Linked DNA regions of Homo sapiens: region 1 is reported to be linked to region 2. The links are microRNA targets in miRTarBase. Many come from high-throughput screens and were not tested one by one. Region 2 holds a microRNA gene; the other region holds the end of a gene's coding sequence.

The links. Region 2 holds the annotated microRNA hsa-miR-361-3p (UCCCCCAGGUGUGAUUCUGAUUU, at 1,617-1,639, opposite strand). A microRNA usually pairs through its seed, bases 2 to 8, with sites in the 3' UTR of a target mRNA and lowers its output. Matches are read on the target gene's strand: a 7mer-m8 pairs with bases 2 to 8, a 7mer-A1 pairs with bases 2 to 7 and ends in A, and an 8mer does both.
Region 1: miRTarBase lists CHD4 as a target of hsa-miR-361-3p. Seed matches in the 3' UTR shown: 7mer-m8 at 701-707 and 8mer at 771-778.

Annotation. Positions count from the first base shown.
Region 1 is chr12:6,567,305-6,571,304 of GRCh38, reverse strand. It overlaps CHD4 (chromodomain helicase DNA binding protein 4), which reads left to right. Exons shown (of 40, transcript NM_001273.5): 39 at 273-436; 40 at 612-1,223. The coding sequence ends at 629. NOP2 (NOP2 nucleolar protein) reads left to right here and starts at 3,014. Exons shown (of 16, transcript NM_001258308.2): 1 at 3,014-3,098; 2 at 3,383-3,489. The coding sequence starts at 3,387. CHD4-AS1 (CHD4 antisense RNA 1) reads right to left here and starts at 2,934. Exons shown (of 3, transcript NR_199067.1): 1 at 1,775-2,934. RefSeq lists enhancers at 708-1,002, 2,670-2,719, 2,543-3,164.
Region 2 is chrX:85,902,025-85,906,024 of GRCh38, forward strand. MIR361 (microRNA 361) reads right to left here and starts at 1,683; the gene lies at 1,612-1,683. All of the region lies in intron 9 of CHM (CHM Rab escort protein), which reads right to left.

The DNA of each region.
Region 1 (4,000 bases), not on the chromosome of region 2:
GAGAAAAAACGAATAAGCTCAAGAAGAGGAAATACAATAATAGTAAGGGATAGTGAAGGTTTAGGTGACTTTAAAAAGCACAAAATCATGGACAGTTGGAACTGGAATATGAGGAGTAGGAATTTGAACATGGTGGAGGTCAGGTCAGATGACAGAAGACAATACATCACAGTTACTTGGTCACTGAGAAGTGATGGGGGGCTGGTCCACTAGGGTAGAGGGAGCTCAGTCTGGGCCACCACAGCTCACCACCTCTTTTTCTCCCTATGCAGTTCTGAAACAGCTGGAAGAACTGCTGAGTGACATGAAAGCTGATGTGACTCGACTCCCAGCTACCATTGCCCGAATTCCCCCAGTTGCTGTGAGGTTACAGATGTCAGAGCGTAACATTCTCAGCCGCCTGGCAAACCGGGCACCCGAACCTACCCCACAGCAGGTAGGACCATTTTCTTCTTGACACCACCTCTTCCTGCAGAACCATTCTGGAGCTTGTAACTTTGCTGTATGTCCCTAGCTTTACATACTGGGTGGGTGGCCTATCAGTGAATTCCCTTGAGATTGGGTGGATTCCTATCATCTGGAATTCTGACTCCTCGGGTCTCCTTCTCTAGGTAGCCCAGCAGCAGTGAAGATGCAGACTGATACCACCTCCACCGCTGAGCAGTGACCTTCCTCACTTTCTCTTGTCCCAGCTTCTCCCCTGGGGGCCTGAGAGACCCTCACCTTCCTTCTGCCCATCTTCCATGTTGTAAAGGAACAGCCCCAGTGCACTGGGGGAGGGGAGGGAGTGAGGGGCAGTGGTGCCCTTCCTGCAGAAGAGACATGCAGCAGTAGCGCTGGCGCCATCTGCAGGAGCTGGCGGGCTGGCCTTCTGGACCCTGGCTTCTCCCCACTGTAACGCCTGTTACACACAAACTGTTGTGGGTTCCTGCCAGGCTTGAAGAAAATGATCTGAATTTTTTCCTCCTTTTGGTTTTATTTTGTTGGTTTATTTTGTGTTTTCTTTTCTCCTTTTTGGGGGGTATTCAGAGTGGGCTGGGCCCCTGGGCGAGACACAGCTACCTCTGTTGGCATCTTTTTAATACCAGGAACCCAGCGGCTCTAGCCACTGAGCGGCTAAATGAAATAAAGTGGAAAAAAAAAAAAAGGAAAAAACCAAAAGCATAAAAAACCACAGCAAATTTCTTGATGAAAATTGAAAATAAAAGTTTCCTTGTATTTTAGTGCTCTGGTTCAGTGTGGGTGTAGGTGCAGGTGGATGAGTGTGTGCGGCAGGAGCCTGGCACCTGTATAGTTGAAAATTAAGGGCTACGTGGTGTCCTGATACCCCACTGAGTAACTGGGTTCTGTGTGTGGGTGCAGTATGTGCCTTGCCAACGTTGACTTCCACCTGTGGAAAATGAGAGGCTGCAAAACTGCGGGCACCGCCGCTTAATGGCTCTGTGACCTTGAGCAAGTTGTTTAACTTTGGTGGGATGCAGATATCTCATGTATACCTCATACGGTTGTCAAGTTAAACCAGTGAAGTACATGGAACGGTTTTAACACCTAACCACTACCTTAATGTTAGTTTCTAGGAAGGCTGAGGGGGGTTTTCTTGCTAAGTTGTGCAAAATTGGGATGCAATTTGTGGAAGAACACAGCCTCAATCCCACACCCCCGGAGGCCCGACCTAACGTCCTCCAACCTTGAAACCCTTGTAGTTCACCCCTTCTCATGTCCCAGACCAGGTCAGCCTTGCAACCCGTTGTTTCCCAACTAATTGTAGACCCACCTGAAAGCGAGTTCCGGCGAAGAGGCCCCCTGCGAATGAGGTGCAGTGCAGCACCTTAATTGAGGGGCTGAGCAGGGGTCAGCATCAAGGAAGGTGCTGGGAGGGCGGGGCACGGTGGCTCACAGCCTGTAATCTCAGCACAAAGGTGGGGGCAGGAGGATCGCTTAAGCCCAGGAGTTCTAGACCAGCCCTGGCAATATAGTGAGACGCCACCCCCTACAACCCGTCTCTATAAAAAGATTTTTAAAAAAGGGGCAAAGAGGAGGAGGTAAGTGGCATGGAATTCCACGGTTTTTTTTGTTTGTTTGTTTTGAGATGGAGTCTCGCTTTGTTGCCAGGCTGGAGTACAGTGGCGCGATCTCAGCTCACTGCAACCTCCCCCTCCCGGGTTCAAGCGATTCTCCTGCCTCAGCCTCCCGAGTAGCTGGGACTACACGCGTGCGCCAGCCACCATGCCCAACTAATTTTTGTATTTTTAATAGAGACAAGGTTGGCCAAGATGGTCTCGGATTTCTTGACCTCGTGATCCGCCCGCCTCGACCTCCCAAAGTGCTGGGATTACAGGCGTGAGCCACCGAGCCCGGCTGGTTTTTTTGTTTTTTTTTTTTGAGGTGGAGTTTCGCTCTTGGTGAGGCTTAAGTGGCACGATCTCGGCTTACTGCAACCTCCGCCTCCCGGGCTCAAGCAATTCTGCCTCAGCCTCTCGAGTAGCTGGGATTATAGGCGCCCGCCACCACGCCCGGCTAATTTTGTATTTTTAGTAGAAGCAGGGTTTCACCATATTGGCCAGGCTGGTCTCGAACTCCTGACCTCAAGTGATCCACCCACCTCAGCCTCCCAAAGTGCTGGGATTACAGGCGTGAGCCACTGCGCCCAGCCTGGAATTCCGTGATCTTGACGCTGGACTAGGGCAGTGGATGCGAGGGAGAGGGCTCCAATGTCGGGCCCTGGTTCGAGGAGAAGGTGCGGCTTTCACCCAACAGAAACCGGCCGTGAGGCTAAAAGCCAACTCCATGAGGGAAGGTCGGTCAAGCTCAATGGTTTCGTCACATTGCTCCCTCCACCCGCCGCGGGTGTAAGCTGCGCGTCTCCTTCGAATTGCCCCCTACTCGCCGCCGCCGGCTCCGCTGGCGTTCCCAGGGCGAGCGTAAGTTCCGGGTGCGGCGGCCGACTAGGCGCAACAGGAAGAGGCGGGGCCGCGAGGCTAGCGCTACCCGTGCGCCTGCGTGGAACGATTCTGTGGCGAGTGCCGGCCGAAAGCTAGGTCCGGATTGCACGTGGAGGGCCGCCCGAAGGGCACTCTCGGACATTAACCCGCATTCTGGTGGGTCTAGAGGAAATTGGGGGACGAAGAGTGGCAGCACTGACCTGGTCTGGGACGTGGGGAGAAGGGTGCGCTACCTGGGTTTCAGGTGGGAGGGCGTTCGGTCGGGCCTCCAGGGGGATAGCGGGGGTGCTTGAGTCGCGGGTGCTGAGTCGGGAGTGCTGAGTGAGTTGCGGGTGCTGAGTTGAGGCTGTGCCCTTTCCCACTATAATACGCCAAGCGTGCGTTCTGCCGTTCCCTCCGACACGCGCGACGCCACCTTCTCCCATTTCTGCCTGCCACAGTACCATGGGGCGCAAGTTGGACCCTACGAAGGAGAAGCGGGGGCCAGGCCGAAAGGCCCGGAAGCAGAAGGGTGCCGAGACAGAACTCGTCAGATTCTTGCCTGCAGGTAAGGATTAGTTGTGGCCTCCTGATCCCTCAGCTTTTGCAGTATTCTGTATTATAACCTCTTCTCTTTTTTAGTTTCTGTTCATTTTATATTTAAGTGGAATCTTCTCTGTATGAGTTACTAGGAGGTATGAATGAAACAGCCGTTTAGATTGTAGGGAACTGTTTAGGTCGTAGAGATGTGAAGACACGGACACAACTATTATTCATGCAAGGGAAAAGTGTGATTTAAAACAATTGTGAGTTCAGAGGAAGGGGGAGCCCATGCAGAACTGTAAAAGTTTTTGTTAAGCTGGGTTTTGAAAAATGGGTAACATTGTAGCAAGAGGAAGTAGTGAAGGGGAGGGGTCAGTCACTGATTTGCCTTTTGGAAGGGGTGGAAATGGAAAAGCACGGATCTGGCTGCTTCATGCCGAGTAGTAGTATACTGTGTGGAAGACTGGTGGGAGGTAACACTGGACCGGGAGTTTGTGTTGGGCATTGGATAAAGGATGCAGTTTATTGAGATAGTA
Region 2 (4,000 bases):
GACTTACCAGCATTGACAAAGCCAGTATGCAATATTTCAGGAACTATATGCAAATGACTGTGTGTTTGCTATATCTTTTGATTATGGAAATATCAATTTATTTGTGTCACAGCTTCTCCTTTGGGGAACAGAATTATTTTATTAGAAATGAACTTATGTGTTGCCCCTCATAAGATGCAAGCAAATTAATTCCAAAAGCATACTGTAAAATATACTGGTATAAGTTAAAATCTGTTCATTCACTTTAAAAATAAGCCATATAAGTGATATTTTCCAGGAATAAAGGCATTAAAAATAAAATGACTAACACTCAAGACCAATAGTGAGAGGAATTTAATTTGTATTTCCTAAAGGCAGATTATAATATGCTGGTATTTTTTAATAAATGGCATCCCACTGTTGTAAGGATAGTCTATGATGTCTAGTGATGTTACATGTACATAATAGATATTTTAACCAATTAACCACCTTTTAATATAACATTTGTAATATTACGTTAATATTTACATGATTTTTTTCCATCTCATCTCCACCTTCTTTCTCTTCTACACTTCTGTTTCTATACATACCTCCTCATATTTCATTGAACTAGAGCTCTTGCCTTATAAAATACTTAAGAAAATAGATCTGAAGTATTTACATCTGATATTCTCCAAAATAATGTTTTAAAAACTGAAAATATAAGTAATTCACTCAGTCTTCTATTTTAAAACACTCATATACCATTTGAAACACAAAGTGCTTCAGGCAATTGAGAAGAGAAATCTGCTGTCATTAAACATCAATCTCTATTTGTCCTGTAAGCACTGACAAATCTTTTTCTTACCTTTAATTCAGAGACTATGTAAAGTCAAGAGGAAATAACTGGGCAGAAAAAAGGGGTTGTTAAATTTCTATATCTTGATAGGGGCTTAGGTTATACAGATTTATCATTTGTTAAAACTCAGTTAAGAAGCACTTAAGATTTGGACCCTTCACTGTATATAAATTTACATCAAAAGAAAAACACTTAACAAATATTGAGCTCCAGGTAATAATATGCAAGCTGGAAGTATTTAGGGGAAATTTTACTGACATCTGCAATTCACAGTCAAATGCATTAAAAAGATGACTCGATACATGGATAGAGGGGTTAATATTTGGGTAGACGTGTGACTGAACAAGTTTATTAAAATGTTATAGAATCCAGGAGGTGGATATACAGGTGTTCTCTTGAAATTCCTTCCATGTCAGTATAAGTTTGAAAATGTTCATCATAAAATGTTAAAATAAAACTGGGGGAGGGGGTCAGTGTTAATATAAATCTCAGACCTGAGTGTAAGTCTTTAAAAAGGGTTCCCATTTAAACTGTATTATTAAACCTGGCCCTCAAGCTTTGTAGGCTTCTAAACATGAACGAGGTTGTTTTGGTGGTAGCCATACCTTTGGTGACAGACATTTGTTTCAAAAGTTATGATATTAGAAAGAACTAATGGAGATCACTCAAAAGGCAAGTATGGGGGTTTGGGAGTTAGGGAGCTCAACCATACCAGGAGAAGATACTAATACATGTGCCTATTTATGCTGATGCTTCTAAAGAAACGGTGATTCTCAGAGCAGGAGGAGGAAAAGGAAGCAAATCAGAATCACACCTGGGGGACTTTTTGAAATTATAAAGTACCCCTGGAGATTCTGATAAGCTCCCAAATCCCAGGAAAAAAATCACTGTCAAGCGTGCCACTGCTACTGTTGTATCTCTTATGTTGTGCTAGGTGGAGAAAAATCAAGGGCTATTGGTACAGATAAAATATTTGTTTCTGCAGAAATTGAGGTGATGGTCACATATGCCCAAGTCTCAGTCTGGTAGATGATAATAACATGACTCACCTGATAATATCACGCTGAAGTACTAAGACTCTAGGCTTAAGCAAAACTGCTCAAATCAAGACATGTTTAAGCAAGTGATAAGATATGTTTTCCTCTCAGACATTTAACTTACTGTCATATATTCAGCATAATTGGGAAAACAATGAATAAAAAAACATTGATTTTAGATCTAAATTTAGTCTTTGTATTATAAAGATTCATATAAAAAATTAGATGACATTTAATTAACAGAAAGCAGCAAAATAAACAGTGCTGCCAGAGTCATGAAAATACCCCTCCCACATAAACCTGAGGAAGGCAGGAAAGATTAAACCACGTAAGATTTAGTTGAGGGCCTTGCTGAGCCTCATAAATAGTAACTTGAGGAGGAACGTAACAGGTGTCTCCAGTTACAGGGACACAATGACCAAGCTGACCATACAAAACACTCAAGCCAGACAGAACATTTCTAGAGCTAAGCTTTCTAAATCAACAAATCACAAGTTATTCAGTTATTGGTTCAACGATATAAGTGTGTAGATAGCAAAATGATGATGAGGAAGAAAATAGTAAGATGAAAACTCAAAATCTGGAATTTGGCCCAGAAGAGGAAAAATAACACTAAAACAAGTATTCAATCTCTGTGATCTTCAGAATGAATATACCAACTAATTTTATGATAAAGAAAGCAGAAATCACATATGGAATAATTTAAAGGAAAATGTACTAAGGAAATTAGAAGATTCTCAATCACTGAAGAAAACAAAATAATTTTCCCTAGTCACTATGCCCTTCTGAGCTTTCTCAAACACATTAGTTCAAATGCTACCTCATCCATAAAACCATTTCAAATGCTTCCCACTCATTTTTCTTGGGTGAAAAACACTCTACTAGTTCTAAACACCATTAGCAGGCAAATAACTTCAAATCTATAGTTTTAGGCTCTGACTTCTGTTAAGTTCTGTATCCATATTTGTAATTGTCTATTATCTACTACTTTCTGGATAGACTCCAAGCTCCCTTTTAATAAATACTTAATTGAAAAACAAAAATTGTATATAGTCAATGTGTATAATGTAATGACTTGATATACACTGTGTAATGATTACCACAAATGAATTAACACATCTATTGCCACCCATCATTACCATCTGTGGGTGTCATGAGGAACTTAATACCTGCTCTTACCAAATCTCAAGGAAATAATATAGTATTATTAGCCAAGCATTTTTTAAAACTAGCATGCTGCAAACTGAGTTTATCATGGCTCCTCACCTGCTCCCACTCCCTTGGAATCCCTATGTCAGGCAATGGCATAATCAGCAGTTTTCCTACCTCAAATCTCTTTTTATATCTAGTCTGCTATAACATTTTGATTCCGCTTTATAAATACTTCCTGAAACTAGCCTCTTCTCTCCGTCTCCACTGATACTGCCTTAGACTCTTACAATGTCTAATATGATAATGACCTGCTAGCAAATTGGTAGTTCATTTGTTCAACATAAATGTATAGCATAACAACCATGTGCCAAGCACTGTTCTAAGAGGTAAGAATAAAAATGTTTTGCCCTAAAGGACAAGATTCAGACAGAGACAATTTTTGAAGATTCAGGCAGAGACAATTTTAAGACAATAGCAAAGTCCAGTGATAAAAGATAAGGATAGGGAATTACACAGTACTAGAAGAGGTACCTAACTCATCTTATGGTGGAGGGGTGGAGTATCAGGGAATGCTCTTTGGAGGAAGTGACACATTTGTTGCTTTTAAAGGATAACATACAGTTAAGCAAGCAAATAAGGATACAGTTATCTCAGGTAGAAGGGCAGAATTTGCGGGGTTACAAAGGCAAGTAAGAGAACAGCAGGTACAGAGACCCATGAACAGATCAGTATTATGTGACAATAAAATGAAAAGCAAGTAGGGAAGAGAGATGAGCCTAGACAGGGAGACAGAGGCCAGATTACAGAGTCTCACCCGTCATATGTCATGTAAAAAGGTCTTACACTTTATTCTGAGATTATATAAAGGCACTGAAGCTTTTTAAATAAGGAGGGGGCCAGATCTGCATACCGAACAGATCTCAATGTGCAATTATCTTATAAATTTAGTTGTTCTGTAATGTCCCCCAGTAGACTGTAAGTTCCTTAGAACAAA